Linked DNA regions of Homo sapiens: region 1 is linked to region 2. The links come from fine-mapping of genetic effects on gene expression. Tissue or cell type: whole blood. Region 2 holds a variant in brackets; the other region holds the start of a gene. All regions are shown on one strand. Distances are between the middles of the regions.

Region 1 (8,102 bases), 210 kb before region 2:
CTTGGAAGAGGTCGCAGCCAACGGCAGTGGGCTGGGAAGACAGGGCAGCTGGGGTTGGGGCTCAGCCCCATGCCCAGAGTCCCCCCAGAGGGCAGGTGGGTAGGAAAGCTTCACCTGCATCACCTCCGTCAGCACCAAGTCTTCCAGGGAGATCTGCTCCATTGCCAGGAAGGGCCTGGCCACCAGCACCCCCCAATCCAGGTGCTGCAGGGCTGGCATCAGCCTCCCCAACAGCCGCTCCAGCTGTGCAGCATCTGCAGGCTGTCCGGAGAAGTGGGGCAGGAGAGACTGGGCTGGGAGGAGAGGAGCAACTTAACCCAGACTCTTGGAAGCCTCTTGGGCCTCCTCTCCATCCCTTCCCGGCTGCCACTCATTAGTGATGTCCTCTGGGGCTCTGTGTTCAGAAGGTTTCTAAGGATTCATTCAGGCTTAGGGGAAGGAGTACTGTGATAGATTAGTTATGTCTGCTGAGGACAGTGGAAGTGAAGCTAATATGTAATATGTACCAACTGGTGCCTTCCATCTCTGGGGGTCCAGGCCCCTGCCCCAGCCTGCATGACAGGGCCTAGGAAGCTCACCTTGCACAGGTAGACATTGGTGGCAGGCAGCTGGATGGTGACATGCTTCCACGCCAAGTACTCATCCACGCAGGTGCGGGCTTGCAGCTCAGGTGGGTACCAGTGTCCCCGTATCTGGTACTTTCGACTCAGGTATAAAACGATGACCATGCTGTGGGCAGGGGGTGTCAGAGATCTTTTCTCCAGCCTGTCAGGGCCAGGTGGCTTCATTGCTCATACTCAGGGTGATTTGACCAGGTTTTCTCCCCACCTTCACCTTCAGGGGAGGACCTCCCCTATACTGCAACTCCCTCCAGGCAGTATCTCCCCACGACCAAACCACTCTGTTTCTCCATTTCCAACTCTGATCCTCCCTGGGCCCATGTTTCCACCTCCCCTCCCAGTTACCATACCATCCTGCCCTCTGTGCCCAGGCCCCACTCCCTGGCATCAGGGTCCCCACTCAGAGTGCCTGCCGTGTGGGCCCTGCCCAAAAGGTCTCCAAGTTCCCTTCCTAGTGCCCCAGAACACTAGGTGCCCATTTTCTATCCTCAGGTAAGCCCTGGGAGGTGGATACATTATTCCTCCCACTCCGTTTTACAGAGGAGAAACCTGGCACACAAAGTTCTGTGATTTCCCCAAGGGCATGGATTGAGGAAGTGGTGAGCTGGGATTGAATGTGGAGTCTCCCCTGGGTCTGCCCAGCTCCTAGGACTCTGAAAGGATGAGCTGGGGACATTTGGGGAGGAGCCAGCCTCAAGCCTGGGCCTTGCCCGCTGGCTTCAGGTTGTCCAGGTTTATCCGGGTGACCTACGTCCTTTCCCCACCTGGGCAGCTCCAGCTGGCTCAGACTCTAGCCAGGTTCCAGCCTCCAGCTTTAGCCCAAAGGTGCCCCTGGGTCCAGCCTCTGCATCGGAGCTACACAGGCTGAAATGAGGAAGGGGCCTCAGTGATTTGGAAAGATCTCCAAGCCAAGGAAAGATCTCCCCTCTCGCCTCTGCCTCCCCCTACAACTCTGAGCCCCAGAACCCAGGCAGATCCTGGCTCTGACCCTGGGTGGGCACCAGGTCACCATTACCTCTTTGCTAGTAGGAAGTCGCCATCTCTGAGGGCAGGCACCTTCCCCAGGGGGTTCACCTTCAGGAACTCAGGCTTCAGGTGCTCCCTTGGTGGGCAGAAAGGAGAGAAGGCTCAGTGTAGGGCCTGGTCCTTGGCACCCACTCCATGGGGCCCAGCCCAGCCACCTGGCTCACCCCAAGCCAACTCCACCATCCACAGCTCAAAAGGGATGTCATTCTGTCTTGCAAAAGTGGATAGTGTGTCAGGTCCAGGAAGAGCTCAAGCCCCATTGCTGCTCCTCTCACCTGCCCTCCCCAGAATTCTGGACCTCCAGGAGTTGCTCAGCCCTTCTCCACTAGTTCTGAGCTGTTTCCTCTCCATAGTCTGCTGTAGTGGGCCAGAGCACAGGGCAGATTTGTCTTCAGGGACTTTCTCTGGGCATTCCTGGGCAGAGAACTTCATCTTCTCTGTTAACTCTTGCTGATAATTCTCTGTAGCTAGGCACCTTGTAAAACCCATGTCCCAGAATGCCAAACCTGGAAATGCAATGTCAGCGCCGAAACTGCATTGAAACTGAATGAATGAGGTCCCCACCCTCTTATCTAAATATCCTATCAGTCTGTTGAATGTCAAAGTATGTAGGGGTGGTGTGGGGGAGCCTATAGGGAGTCTCCATTTCTGTAGCTTTCCACATGTTCCATGCAGAATTTTCCTCTAATGACCCTTGGACACCGTGGTGGTCACTGTTTCCCTGCATAAACCTTTGATGATCCTTATCTTTAGCGTACCAGTGAAACACCAAATTCAGATTTTCAGTCTGTGCAGTCTATGTAGTTAATAAAATCAATTTCTAATGGAATATGCCTGTGCCTGGTGTGTTTGTACCTAACCACTGCTAAGGACTTTCATTGATAGCTAGACCTTGGAGTTCCTTCCCCTGGACCCCTGACCCAAGTATTTTGCACTCATTCCTCTGCCAGTGTGTTTCATGGTGTCCTGCTTCCCAGAGTGCCTCAGGGAATGCTTGCATTGGATATGAATGAATCGTTGCGGTCACCATGGATGGGATTCAGGCCTAACTCTCACCAAGACCATAAGGCCACAGTCTTTGATATAGATTCCCCATGTTAAATCTGCCATCCTCAGTGTAGTGAGAGTGATATTGAGAGAGAAAAGTTAGGTAATTAAGGTGGGTCCTTGGTAAAACTCCTTTAAACAGAGGAACAGCCTGAAAAATCAGGCTTCAGGCACAGATAAGGAAACTTGCACAAACCTCTGGCTCACTCAGATAAAGGAACAATGCCCAACACAGAAACACCTTTGATCTTTGTGCCTAAGGCATGCCCACAGCTACTTTGATAAGGGAACAAGACCCAGCATAGAAATGCCTTTGTCCTTTGTATAACCAGTGGGCTTCCAGGAAATAGTCTCTTCTCCTTTTGTGGACATGTACACGGTGGGCTACAGTGGGTTCCAGTGGGCACTTTCCTTTCTTGGACGTGCTTTAGAATGTGAGCCTCTGATTGGTCCTGGGCCAGGCTATCACTTCAGCTCCTGATTGGTCCCTCAAGGTCCAGGGGCCAAGCTGAGTAGTGCTTTCTCCAAGACCAGTCAGTACATTCCTTCCTTTCCCAGTCCATAAAACCCCCTGACCCAGCCTCATAATGGGCAACCTGCTTGGGCCCCCCGCCAGCTGCAATGAGCTTTCTTCATTTGCTTATTAAACTTTTGCTTCAACCTTACCCTTTGTGTCCACACTCCCTAATTTTCTTGGTCGTGAGACAAAGAATTCTGGGTGATACCCCACAATGAGAGACTGGTACATTGTGGTGCACGGGCAAGACTGCAACAATATGTTTTCTGCTTGCTTGTTTGGACTGGCCTCTTCCTAACTCTCCAGAGTGCTCTCTCCCCACTGTGGCCCTGAGCTTTGCCTCACGGTAACACTGTGCTGCATGACACTCCAGCATGATCTGCATGTTTCTCACCTCCGGACCTTCCCCACACAACTTTCTTGCTGCTTGGACCACCCTTCCCACCTATTTTCAACTGTTTCTCTCCAGCGCATCTTTCATGATAAGGCTTGAGTGGAAGCTGTATCCGAGGCTGAAGGTTATCCATGCAGCTTTGAAACCATCTGTTTATGCTTCTGTTTACCCCCCAAATACTGTTTACCCCAATACTCAAAGTCAAGGTTGGTGACTCAACAATTTTCAGAACTTCTAGCTTATCAGTATAGCTTTATTGTACTGAACTGAGTTTTTCACCATGCTGTTACTGTCTTTGAGGTTAAAAAGCCCCCAACATTCACTCCTATTTGAATCATCTGTGCAAGACTCAAGCAGCTATGAATTCAACCACAGTGTAAAGTTCTTCCCTACAATGCTTTATTGTTATTCTAGCTCCCAAGAGAGTACCATCTTTCAGCCCAAGACCCTTGACAGAACCCCTTCAACTCTGTCGCCTTTTTTCATCTCTGGAATTCTGACACCACCCATGACCCCTCTTCTTGTTCATTTACTAGGTTTTGTTCCTTTTTTTCCTTTTGTTTCAATATCCTATTGTATCTGTTCCTTTTGGGCTTCACATCCTTTTTGGAAAGAGAGGCACAGGTAATATAATGAATGAGGATGCTCCTCCTCCCTGGTTCCCTCTAAGTCAAGTTTCTCCAACGCGCTGGTCTGCTTGGCTTTGAATGCGGCTCAACACAAATTCATAAACTTTCTTACAACATTTTGAGATTTTTTGGTGATTTTTATTTTTATTATTTATTTATTTATTAACTTATCAGCTATCCTTAGTGTTAGTGTATTTTATGTGTGGCCCAAAACAATTCTTCCAACGTGGCCCAGGGAAACCAAAAGATTGGACACCCCGCTCTAAGTGTTCCCCAAGTTTCCACTGTTTTCAGAGCACATGTCCCAGGTAATAACACACAGCCCATCATTTAGTGACTGCTCAGGGTGCAAGCTGTGGAGAAGAGAGTCCGACTACGAGCTGGTGCTCTAAGCCTCCAGCACGCTAGGACTGACGACGGGGATCCGGAAACAACAAGCTCCACTCCCGCAACACACACACACACACACACACACACACACACACACACACACACACGCACACGCACACGCGCACGCGCGCACACACGCGCACACACGCGCGCACGCGCGCGCGCGCCGCCCAAGGGTAGCCGTCTGCAGGGCCCCAGCTAAGCAGCCCGCGGAGAGCGAGCGGCGCGTGCGCCCCCGCTGATTGGCTGGCACAACCGGCACCGGAGCCAATGGGAGCACGCCTTGTTGTCAGGCGCGCAGCCGGACGGCGCGGTGGTCGGGACAGACTGGCCGTTGCTGTGGAGACGCCTGGTGAGTTCCTGGAAGGCTGGTTTGAAGGCGGTGCCGGGGTGGGGGTGAGGCTCAGCAGAGCCCGGGGCACAGGCCGGAGGGGCTGCAGGCGCGAGGCTGGGTTACGTGAGGAAGCTGGGGGTTTCGCGGGCAGCTTTAGAGCCCCAGTCAGGGAAACCGAGGCCGGGCTTCCTGGCTGCCTCGCGAGCCTCTTCATGGCTCTCGCCGCCGCCCTGAGGTGCCTAGAATGGGTTCCGGCCTCCGGGGAGGTTCCCAGTAACCGCAGGAGCCACCATTGATTTGGCGTCTGCTGGGTGCAAAGCCCAGCGCGCTAACCCTTTACTCGCGACCTTTCGCTTCACCTTCACAGCAGCCCTGCGAGGTGAGTGTTGTTATTGGTGCCATTTACAGGGGTGGAAACTGAGGCCGCGGGTAGGTGAAATGATTTGCTCCAAGTCACCCAGTGGGTGAGCGCGACTCCAGACTGAAAATTTTGACCGTTCTGCTTCACTGCCTCCCCGCAAGAGGCGGGCCCTGGCCAGATGGAACTCACCTGGCATTCCCAAGGTATCTGCACAAGTGGCTTTGGGAGTCACTTAACTCTTCAGGACCTGGGTTATTACAGGTTATAAGTGTGGGACCGTCGGATTCCATGTGGCTAAGATTCTTTCTATGTGATTATTGTGGTTAGAAATAGAATATGCTTAGAACAGTCTCGTTCAGCGGTCGGCAAACTTTTGTTGTAAATATATCAGTGTTTACATTGTTATATTGTAAGTATAATGAGTATAATAGTATTCATAATAGTAGTTTAGGCTTGGGGGGTCCATACTCTGTCTACTTAACTGTAGCGATGTAGTGTGGATACAGCCAAAGACAATACATAACAGACTAGCTGCGTCGCAATAAAATTTTAATTATAGGGACCGAAGTTTTAATTTTATATATTGTTAATATAATTTTCACGTGTCATGATTTTTTTTCCCAAATATGAAAAAATGTAAAAACCATTCTTTGCTCGTGGGCTGTACAAAAAGGGTGGGCTGGTTAGCTTGCAGAACCCTCATCTAGTACAAAGCCTCATACATGAGGGGAAACAGACTGAGAGACTGACATCTATGTCAAGTCAGTCACACAGCCAGGGCACTGCCACCACTGAGCTTAAGACATAGGCTTCCCACCTTCCAGGCCAGGAAACATCCCCAGTTATCACTCTGGATCAGGGTGCTGAGGTCTGAAGGTGTGCTACTCTTTATCGTGTTCTGAGGCCATGGAAACTATATTCTAAGGGGTTTGGAAACTTATTAGCTTAGACTAATAAGCCTGGTGAATGTGCTGCTATCTGAGGAAATGCAGCTGCTGGGCTGGGAGTCAGAAATGAATAGATATTTTTCTTTTTCATGATTATTCAATAGCTTTTGTGTGTGTGTGTGTGACGGAGCCTTGGTCTGTCGCCCAGGCTGGAGTGCAGTGGCATGATCTCGGCTCACTGCAATCTCCGCCTCCCGGGTTCAAGCAGTTCTCCTGTCTCGGCCTCCCGAGTAGCTGGGACTACAGACACCCGCCACCATGCTTGGCTAATTTTTGTATTTTTAGTAGAGACGGGGTTTCACCGTATTGGTCAGGCTGCTCTCAAACTCCTGACCTCAGGTGATCCACCCGCCTCGGCCTCTGAAAGTGTTGGGATTACAGGCGTCAGACACCGCGCCCGGCCTCAATAGCTTTTTTTTTTTTAAAAGCTCCTTTTAGTGAGTTTCTTGGATTTATGGTGAACAATACATAAATGGTTACCATCCTCACATTGCTTACAGATGATAAATATATAATCAAAATGGTTATTTCTTTTTAAGCTTTTTTTTTTTTTTTTTTGAGATGGAGTCTCGCCTGTGGCCCAGGCTGGAGTGCAGTGGTGCGATCTCGCCTCACTGCAAGCTCCGCCGCCTGGGTTCACGCCATTCTCCTGCCTCAGCCTCCCTAGTAGCTGGGACTACAGGCGCCTCTCACCATACCCTGCTAGTTTTTTGTATTTTTTAGTAGAGACGGAGTTTCACCGTGTTAGCCAGGATGGTCTTGATCTCCTGACCTCATGATCCGCCCGCCTCGGCCTCCAAAAGTGCTGGGATTATAGGCGTGAGCCACCATGCCCGGCCTCTTTTTAAGCTTTTTAAACTAATTTTAGATTTAGAGAAAAATTGCAACAATACAAAACGCTCTGTTATGTCCTTCACCCTGCTTTCCCTAATGTTAACATCTTACATAATCATACAATTATCAAGAACAGAAATCTAGTGTTGGTACAGTATTATTAACTACATTACAGATGTGATATGAATGTTACCATTTTTTAAATTAAGGTTGTGTTTTCATTCCAGGACCCTATCCAAGATCCCATGTTGCATTTAGTTATTTCTCCTTGGTCCATAACACTTCCTTAGTCTTTTCTTGTTTTCCTTGGCTTTGATGCTTTTAAAGAGTAGTGATCAGTTATTTTGTCTAACGTCTCTCAATTTAAAGGTTTGTCCAGTGTTTTCTAATGATTGGGGTGAGATTATGCATTGTTGGCCAGAACACAAAGACACATTATCTTTGTGTCTTTCTCAGTGCATCACATGGAGTCCAAGATATTGGAATGTCTTATTACTGGTGATATTTACCTTGATCTATTGGTTTACTTGGTGTCTACCAGGTTTCTACACCATAAAATTACTATCCCTTTCTAATTAATAAGTCTCTTGGGAGAGATACATTGAGAGGACACAAATTCTCGTTCTCCACAAATTTGCTCCCTGACTTTAGCATCCATCTGCAGATCTTTGTGGTGTTTGCCTAAAGGTAATTATTTCTCTCTTTCCTTCTACATTATTAAGTCAAGTTCTACTGAAAGGAGAACTACCCTCTCTCTCTTTTATTTATTTATTTGATTATTTATGTGTCAGTGTAGGCCATGGATATGTATTATATTCTATGAGTTAAAATTCATTATCATCATTATTTTGTTGCTTACTGTTCCAGCATTGGCTATTTAGTTAGGATCTCCTTCAGGTTAGCTTCTGTGGCCTATCAACTGGCCCTCATTTTTTTTTTTTTCCTTCAAGCACTTACTTTATGGCACACCACAAGGTGTTCCAGGCTCATCTTGTGTTTTCTC
Region 2 (8,102 bases):
GGTGGCTCACACCTGTAATCCCAGCACTTTGGGAAGCTGAGGCCGGCAGATCATTTGAGGTTAGGAGTTCGAGACCAGCCTGGCCAACGTGGTGAAACCTTGTCTCTACTAAAAATACAAAAATTAGCCAGATGCAGTGGCGGGTGCTTGTAATCCCATTTACTCGGGAGGCTGAGGCACAAGAATCCCTTGAACCTGGGAGGCGGAGGTTGCAGTGAGCCAAGATTGCACCACTGCACTCCAGCCTAGGTGACAGAGTGAGACTCCATCTCAGAAAAATAAATAAATAAATAAATAAAAATATAGGATGCCCAATTAAATCTGAATGTCAGATAAATGACAATTTGTTTTTAGCCTAAGTATGTCCTAAGTATTGCAACTCAACTCCATTTATATTGTCCTAGAAAGGCTTTTATTATGTCCAAGTTTTCAAATTTATTAAAATAAAGATGAGTAATCTTTTAAGTTCCCCTATAGATGTGATTATTTCTTCATTCTCATTTCTTATTTTGTGTATTCATTTGTACCAATTCACTAGCTAATAGCCTATCTTTTTTTTTTTCAAAGACCTATTATTCTGATTTCAAATTTATCAGTTTCTGCTTCAGTTGTTCCTGAGTTCTTTCGCTTTCTTTATTTTTCCTTTACTGACTTTTTTATTCTTTTTTTTTTTTTTTTTTTTGTGATGAAGTCTCGCTCTGTCGCCCAGGTTGTAGTGAAGTGGCATGATCTCGGCTCGCCGAAACCTCTGCCTGCTGGGTTCAGGTGATTCTCCTGCCTCAGCCTCTTGAATAAATGGGATTACAGGCGCCCGCCACCATGCCTGGCTAATGTTTGTATTTTTAGTAGAGATGGGATTTCACCATGTTGGTCAGGCTGATCTCAAACTCCTGACGTCAAATGATTGGCCTGCCTCAGCCTCCCAAAGTGTTGGGATTACAAGTGTGAGCCACCATGCCCAGCCTACTTTACTAACTTCTTAAATAATATACTTTATTTATTTTTGTTGGTTTGTTTGTTCGTTTGTTTTTCAGACCGAGTCTCGTTCTGTCACCCAGGCTGGAGTGCAGTGGCACGATCTCAGCTCATTGCAACCTCCACCTCCCGGGTTCAAGCGATTCTCCTGCCTCAACCTCCCGAGTACCTGGGACTACAGGCACACGCCACCATGCCTGGTAATTTTTTTTTTTTAGTAGAGATGGGGTTTCACCATGCTGGCCAGGCTGGTCTTGAACTCCTGACCTCGTGATCCGCCTGCCTTGGCCTCCCAAAGTGCTGGGGTTACAGGCATGAGCCACAGCGCCTGGCCTGTTTGTTTTTGAGACAGAGTCTCGCTCTGTCACCCAGGCTGCAGTGCAGTGGCACGATCTCAGCTCACTGCAACCTCTGCCTCCCAGGTTCAAGCAATTATCCTCCCTCAGCCTCCCAATCAGCTGCGATCACAGGTGCCCGCCACCACACCTGGCTAATTTTTTTGTATTTTTAGTAGAGACGGGGTTTCACCATGTTAGCCAGGCTGGTCTTGAACTTCTGACCTCAAGTAATCCACCTGCCTTGGCCTCCCAAAGTGCTGGGATTGCAGGCATGAGCCACCGCACCTGGCCTATTTATTTTGATTCTTATTTTTTATGTAATATTTAAGCAAATGAATTTTCCTCCGAGCCCTGCATTAGCTGTATCCTGAAGGGTCAGATCTGTATTGATTACAGTGTTAGTTGAAGATGTCGCCCTTTTGGTATTGATTTCCTCTGTGTAACAAGATGTTTCAAAAGCCAGCTGTAAGAGTCTCTGGCTGGGCTGGGAATGCACACTGGCTGGCACTGCTGGTGGTGCAGAATGGATGTAGGGGCAGGGCCTGGGCAAGTCTCCCAGGGTGGGATGAGCAGGGAGGGAGAGGAATGGGCTTCCTCCAGGGCCTCAGGAACCAAGGAAGTCTCTGCACTACCTCCAGGCAGGGTCAGATGTGCATTTTCCAAAGCTTATTGCATTAGGAGTGGGGAGTAGACTGTGGTGGTGCCAGCAGCAAAAAGATGGAAAAGAGAGAAGGAGGTGGAGTCAGGGCTGAACCACACAGCTGGAGGGAAGAGGGGGGTTCTACGAGTAGCGCAGGAGGGAGGCGAGGCAGGCACCGCAGAGCTTCCAGCTGCCTCAGGGCCGACTTCCATTTGGCACTTTGAGTCCAAGGTGCCTGTGCACCTTGTCCAGATGCTCTGGAGGTGGTTGCTCGGGTATGTGGGTCTGAGACTCCAAACAGCTCGGCCAAAGCCGACATGGAGATCCATCAGTTCACAAGTAGTGAATGAGCCTTCTCAGGTGGGTGGCAGTCCCAGGGTGGCCAAGGGTCCAGGGAGTGCACCCTCACTCTGCAGGTGAGTCAGAATCAGGCACCACAGAGCCAGGGTTGCACCCCTGCTGGGGGGAACAGGAGCCCCTTTTCCTCTCCCCGACACACAGGGACAAAGTTATCATGCTCTTTGGGTGCCACTGGGAGGCACTGATGGGAGAGACTGGCCAGGCCTTCCCAAGCAAGCTCCAGGCAGCCTCCCAGCACCCCGGCCCAGGCGCAGGTGTGGTCTGGGAGCACAGAGCCAGGTTCCCACCGTGGGGCACCTGAGGTTTGTGCCTAGCAGCCTTCTCCTCCTTTGGTTCCCTTTTCCTTTTTGGTCCACAGGGTTTGGGACAGGTGGCTGCTACCAACAGCTCTCAAGGTGGCCCCACAGACCTGAGCCAACCACTTCTCCTCAGCCCTCCCCTGCCCATGAAGACTGCTCAGAGGGGCCCCATTGAGAGCTGGATCTGGGACTTTGTTTAAACTGCAAGGAGAGAAGCTCTGTCACCCTGCAGGGCGTGAAGTTCAGCTGAAGCCATTGAGATCATGGCCTGGGAGCCTATCTAGCAGGAGGCTACCACACGGAGGGCCCTGACGGTGTGAGTTCGGCCTCTGGATCCCACCACACTGAAGCACTCCAGAGACTCCCTTCTCTCTAAACCCACCAGTTCTGCTCCCTGGACCCCTGACCCAGCCGTGCTGCTTTCAAAGATCTGTCTTCCACTGCCTCCCAAAGCCAGATCGCAGGAGAAGCTGGTGGTCTCGCATCTGCCTGAATTCTGACAGCGGCCCACGAGAGTCGGTGATGATGGCAGGTCTGCCCAAGTGGTGGGCCGGCTTGGCCCCCTCATCTCAAAGTGAGCCATGTTTTGCTCCCAGACCTTCCTCCTAGTCTGCCAGACCACCTCTTCTAGCCATGCAGTCAAGCCCAGATTAGGAATTAGCCCCATCCAGCCCCTCTCCCACATACAACCTCCAAATATATCCACATCCCAATCCCTAGAACCCAAGATTAGACCTTATATGGCAAAAGTGACTTTGAAGATGTGATTCAATTTTTTGAGATGGGGAGATTATCCTGGACCATCCAGGTGGACCCACTATGCCCCCAAAATTCACGTGTTGAAAGCTAATCACCAATGTGATAGCGTTAGCAGGTGGGGCCTTTGGGATGTGGTTAGGTCATGAGGGTAGAGCCCTCATGAATGGGATTAGTGCCCTATAAAAGAGACCCCAGAAGCCAGGCATAGTGGGCTGCACCTACAGTCCCAGCTACTGAGGAGGCTGAGGCAGGAAGATCTCTTGGGTACAGGAGTGAGCTATGATCACGCCATTGTACTCCAGCCTTGGTGACAGAGTGAGACCCTGTCTCTAAAGTAATTAAATAAAAGAGACCCCAGAGAGCTAGCTAGCTTCTTCCACTATGTCAGTTAGAAGGTGCCATGTATGAGGACATGGGCCCTCACAGGACATCAAATCTGCCAGTACCTTGATCTTGGACTTCCCAGCCTCCAGAGCTGTGAGCAATAAATTTCTGGAAAATGCTATAAGCCACCCACTTTCCAGTATTTTTGTTATGGCAGCCCAGGCAGACTAAAACAACCTCTGTGGCACATTTGGGGTGATGGAGGAACAGCCGATGTTCC[T/C]AGGAACCAGTGAGGCGCAGGAGTCCCAGATCCCTCTAGTGAGATCCCCAGAGAGCACCACGTACCCACCCTGCAGCTGGCAAAGCTATTTATGGAAGTTAGGGGCCTGTTGGTTTAGAGCGGCCATTCTCAACCAGGGGGATGTGGCACTGTCTTGAGACAGTTTTGGTTGTCATGAGTGGGTGTGTGCGGTGGGGAGTGCTACTGCATCACACAGGCTGAGGCACGGGATGCTGCTCAACATCCTACAGTGTGGGGACAGCCCCCCACAACAAAGAATCATTTCATTCGAAACATGGATGAGGACCAAGCGCAGTGACTCACACCTGTAATCCCAGCACTTTGGGAGGCCGAAGCAGGAAGATTGCTTGAAGCCAGGAGTTTGAGACCAGCCTGGGCAACATGGTGAAACCCCATCTTTACAAAAAAAGCAAAAAATCAGCCGGATGTGGTGACACACACCTGTACTCCCAGCTACTTGGGGGCCTGAGGTGGGAGGATTGCTTGAGCCCAGGAGGTCGAGGCTGCAGTGGGCTGAGACTGCACCACTCCACACCAGCCTGGGTGATAAAGTGAGACCCTGTCTCAAAAAAAAAAAAATTAGCTGAGCACGGCAGCGTGCATGGTGGTTTGTGCCTGTAGTCCCAGCTACCTGAGAGGCTGAGTTGAGAAGATGGCTTAAGCCAGGGAGGTGAAGGCTGCAGTGAGCCAAGATCATGCCACTGCATTCCAGCCTGGGTGACAGAGCCAGACCCTGTCTCAAAAAAAATGACAGAACAGACTCTGTGGCAACAAGATACCAAATTATAAAGAGGACCCAAGGCCAAGCCAGGCAGGGGTTAATTCATGGACCCTGCACTTAAAGAATAAACTATGTTCTAACAGCAATGAGGCTTTCCTTTTCCTCCAGCAGCAACAAGCACCGGCCTGAAGCAACATTAATACACTTTGCAGCTCATCCAGCTCACGGATGCCAACTTATTGACCCCCTGTTTTTCCAGGCATAACTACAGCTCCGACTGGACAAGAGACTGATTTCAGTAACTTTCTCCTGATAAGAGACCATTGACCATGAACTGGCTCTGGCTGGTTTTCAGAAGTTGCTCACTTGCAGGCCTTCAGGCCCTGAAAAGATGTTTTGACAGATGGGGCCTAATTGTAATACATTTTATTTTATTTTATTTATTTTATTGAGATGGAGTCTCACTCTGTTGCCCAGGCTGGAGTCCAGTGGCACCATCTTGGCTCACTGCAACCTCCGCCTCCTGAGTTCAAGCAATTCTTCTGCCTTGGCCTCCTGAGTAGCTGGGATTACAGGCGCCCGCCACTGTGCCCGGCTAATTTTTATATTTTTAGTAGAGTTGGGGTTTCACCATGTTGGCCAGGCTGCTCTTGAACTCCTGACCTCATGTGATCCACCCGCCTCGGCTCCACAAAGTGCTAGGATTATAGGCGTGAGCTACCGTGCCTGACCTTGTAATACATTTTAATGTTAAGTCTCCACCGTCTTCATCCTACAGCAAACATGAGTCCTATGTTACATGCATGTTCGTTCAATACACATGTGTCAAGACTGCCTTCATGAATATTCATAGCTCTCCCTGTAACATGTTGAATATGTATGTTTAGCCAACCCCTTCAGCATACAGCTCCTGCCCCAACCTCTCCTCCTTAGAAGTGCCTATCTCCGGATCACGAGATCAGGAGATCGAGACCATCCTGCCTAACACAGTGAAACCCCGTCTCTACTAAAAATACAAAAAAAATTAGCCGGGCGTGGTGGCGGGCGCCTGCAGTCCCAGCTACTCGGGAGGCTGAGGCAGGAGAATGGCGTGAACCTGGGAGGTGGAGCTTGCAGTGAGCCGAGATCGTGCCACTGCACTCCAGCCTGGGCAAGAGAGCGAGACTCCATCTCGAAAAAAAAAAGAAGTGCCTGTCTCTGGTCTCTGCCAGAGGCTATGCTTTTGAAAGTGGCGGATGGCCACCCTGCAGTCTGTAACCCTTTATGAAAAATAAAGTTGCCGCTGTGGCTCACACCTGTAATCCCAGCACTTTGGGAGGACAAGGCAGGCGGATCACTTGAAGTCAGGATTTCAAGATGAACCTGGCTACATGGTGAAACCCCATCTCCACAAAAAATACAAAATGAGCCGAGTGTGGTGGCACGCACCTGTAATCCCAGCTACTCAGGAGGCTGAGGCAGGAGAATCGCTTGAAGCTGGGAGGCAGAAGTTGCAGTGAGCTGAGATTTTGCCACTGCACTCCAGCTTGGGCAACAGAGTGAGACTTTGTTTCACAGAAAAAAAAAAAAAAAGAAAGTAAGTTGGGGGATGGGGGAGAGCTTCAGGAAGAATAGCTAATGGATGCTGAGCTTAATACCTAGGTGATGGGTTGATCTCTGCAACAAACCACCAAGGCACATGTTTATCTATGTAACAAACTTGCACATCCTACGTATGGGCCCCTGAACTCAAAACACAAGTTGAAGGAAAAAAAAAAAAGAAAGTCTTGTCGGGCATAGTGGCTCACACCTTAATCCCAGCACTTTGGAAGGCCGAGGAGGGAGGATGGCTTGAGACCAGGAGTTCAAGACCAGCCTGGGCAACATAGCGAGACCCTGTCTCTACAAAAAAAATTTTAAAAATTGGCCAGGTGTGGTGTTGCACACCCGTAGTCCCAGCTACTTGGGAGGCTGAGGCAGGAGGATGGCTTGAGCCCAGGAGGTTGAGGGTGCAGTGAGCCGTGATTGCACCACTGCACTCCAGCCTGAATGACAGAGCAAGACCCCATCTCAAAGAAAAAAGAAAGAAAGAAAAAATGAAAGGAAAGAAGAAAGAAAAAAGTCTCTTTTCCAAATTTGTGAATTGTGTGATTTTTCAGTTAACCAGCTCTCAGGTCTGGGGCCAGTCACGCTGCTGAGTCCTGGCCACCAGAGTGGTGAGGTGTTGGGAGGCAGAGGTGGTGCTTGTCTCTGTCCAGGGGTGGCCTGGCTGAGGTTCGGCTGGTCCACGAGCATCAGTTTCCCCACCTCCATGGTGGTGGAATGTGGAGAGCCATAGGAGCCTGGTGCATGCACCCCTCTGTGCACTGTCCGAGGGTCCCCTCCCCACTTAGAACCATGGAATCAGGCCACAGTCCGCCTCTTTAATCTTGGACTGGAGGATATACAGATCGAGAGGGTGGGAGAGTGGCCCCAGGCAAGAGGCCTGCGGAGGGATAGAGGGGCCGGTTCAGGACCACCAGGGGCTCTGGGAAAGGGGGTTAGGGATGAGGCTCAGCCTCTCATCTGCCCAGCTGGTCCCCGCCACCTCTTCCACTCTCAGCTGGACTCCCCTGCCAGGGGTCCAGATCCTGCCAGAGTAGTTGGTCCCCCAGCCATGTCCGGCCTGGACACAGGACTCATGGTGGGGCCAGACTTCAGCTCTGGGCAGAGCAGTGTCTTAGTAGCCTGCGGCCTCCCCACTCTTCCTCAGGTCCGAGACGGCGTACACACAGGCCCCCTCCTGGGACACAGCCTGGACCACGTTCAGGAAGAAGGGCCTCTGGGTCTGGTTCTGGCCACGGTCTTGGAGTCCCCTCTGCACCTCCTGGAGAGGAGAGAAAGCAGGTTCACAGGGGAGGGCAGCTCAGCCCATCTCCAGGAGGGAGAGGCCTCTGCAAGAAATGAGAAAAATGATCAAAAGGCAAGACGGAGAGGAAGAGGGCCTGAAGACACAGGAAGAGGGGAGGACCAGATGGGAGCATGGAAGAGATCCAAAGGCCCATAGAGGACAAGCTCAGCCTCCAGGGACTATGTACGAAGGACACCACCCAGGCCCGAAGACCTCCAAATGCAAGTTCATGTCTGTTCTGGATCCAAGGACACCAGGGCCTTGAGGTGCAAATCTGAGTTCAGGGGGCCTTCGATGGAGGATGTGGCTTCTCAAGATTTAGACACTGAGGCCAGACACAGTGGTTCACACCTGTAATGCCAGCAATTTGGGAGGCTGAGGAAGGAGGATCACTTGAGGCCAGGAGTTTGAGACCAGCCTGGGCAATGCAGCAAGATCCTGTTTCTAAAAAATAAAAAATAAGAAATAAAAAAAAGCCAGGCGTGGTGGCACATACCTACAGTCTTAGCCACTTGG

The links. PIP is the estimated chance that this variant, and not a neighbour inherited with it, causes the effect.
Region 1: CABIN1 starts here. The variant in region 2 is fine-mapped to the expression of CABIN1 in whole blood (TOPMed, PIP above 0.99).

What each region holds. Positions count from the first base shown.
Region 1 is chr22:24,006,393-24,014,494 of GRCh38, forward strand. CABIN1 (calcineurin binding protein 1) reads left to right here and starts at 4,912. Exons shown (of 37, transcript NM_012295.4): 1 at 4,912-4,975. It overlaps LOC105372959 (a long non-coding RNA gene), which reads left to right. Exons shown (of 2, transcript XR_001755457.1): 2 at 1-2,475.
Region 2 is chr22:24,212,555-24,220,656 of GRCh38, forward strand. GGT5 (gamma-glutamyltransferase 5) reads right to left here. Exons shown (of 12, transcript NM_004121.5): 12 at 7,106-7,562. The coding sequence ends at 7,416. It overlaps LOC124905090 (a long non-coding RNA gene), which reads left to right and starts at 1,034. Exons shown (of 2, transcript XR_007068023.1): 1 at 1,034-1,175; 2 at 2,672-3,876. RefSeq lists an enhancer at 1,075-1,601. The variant T/C (reference allele first, on the strand shown) is at 3,976.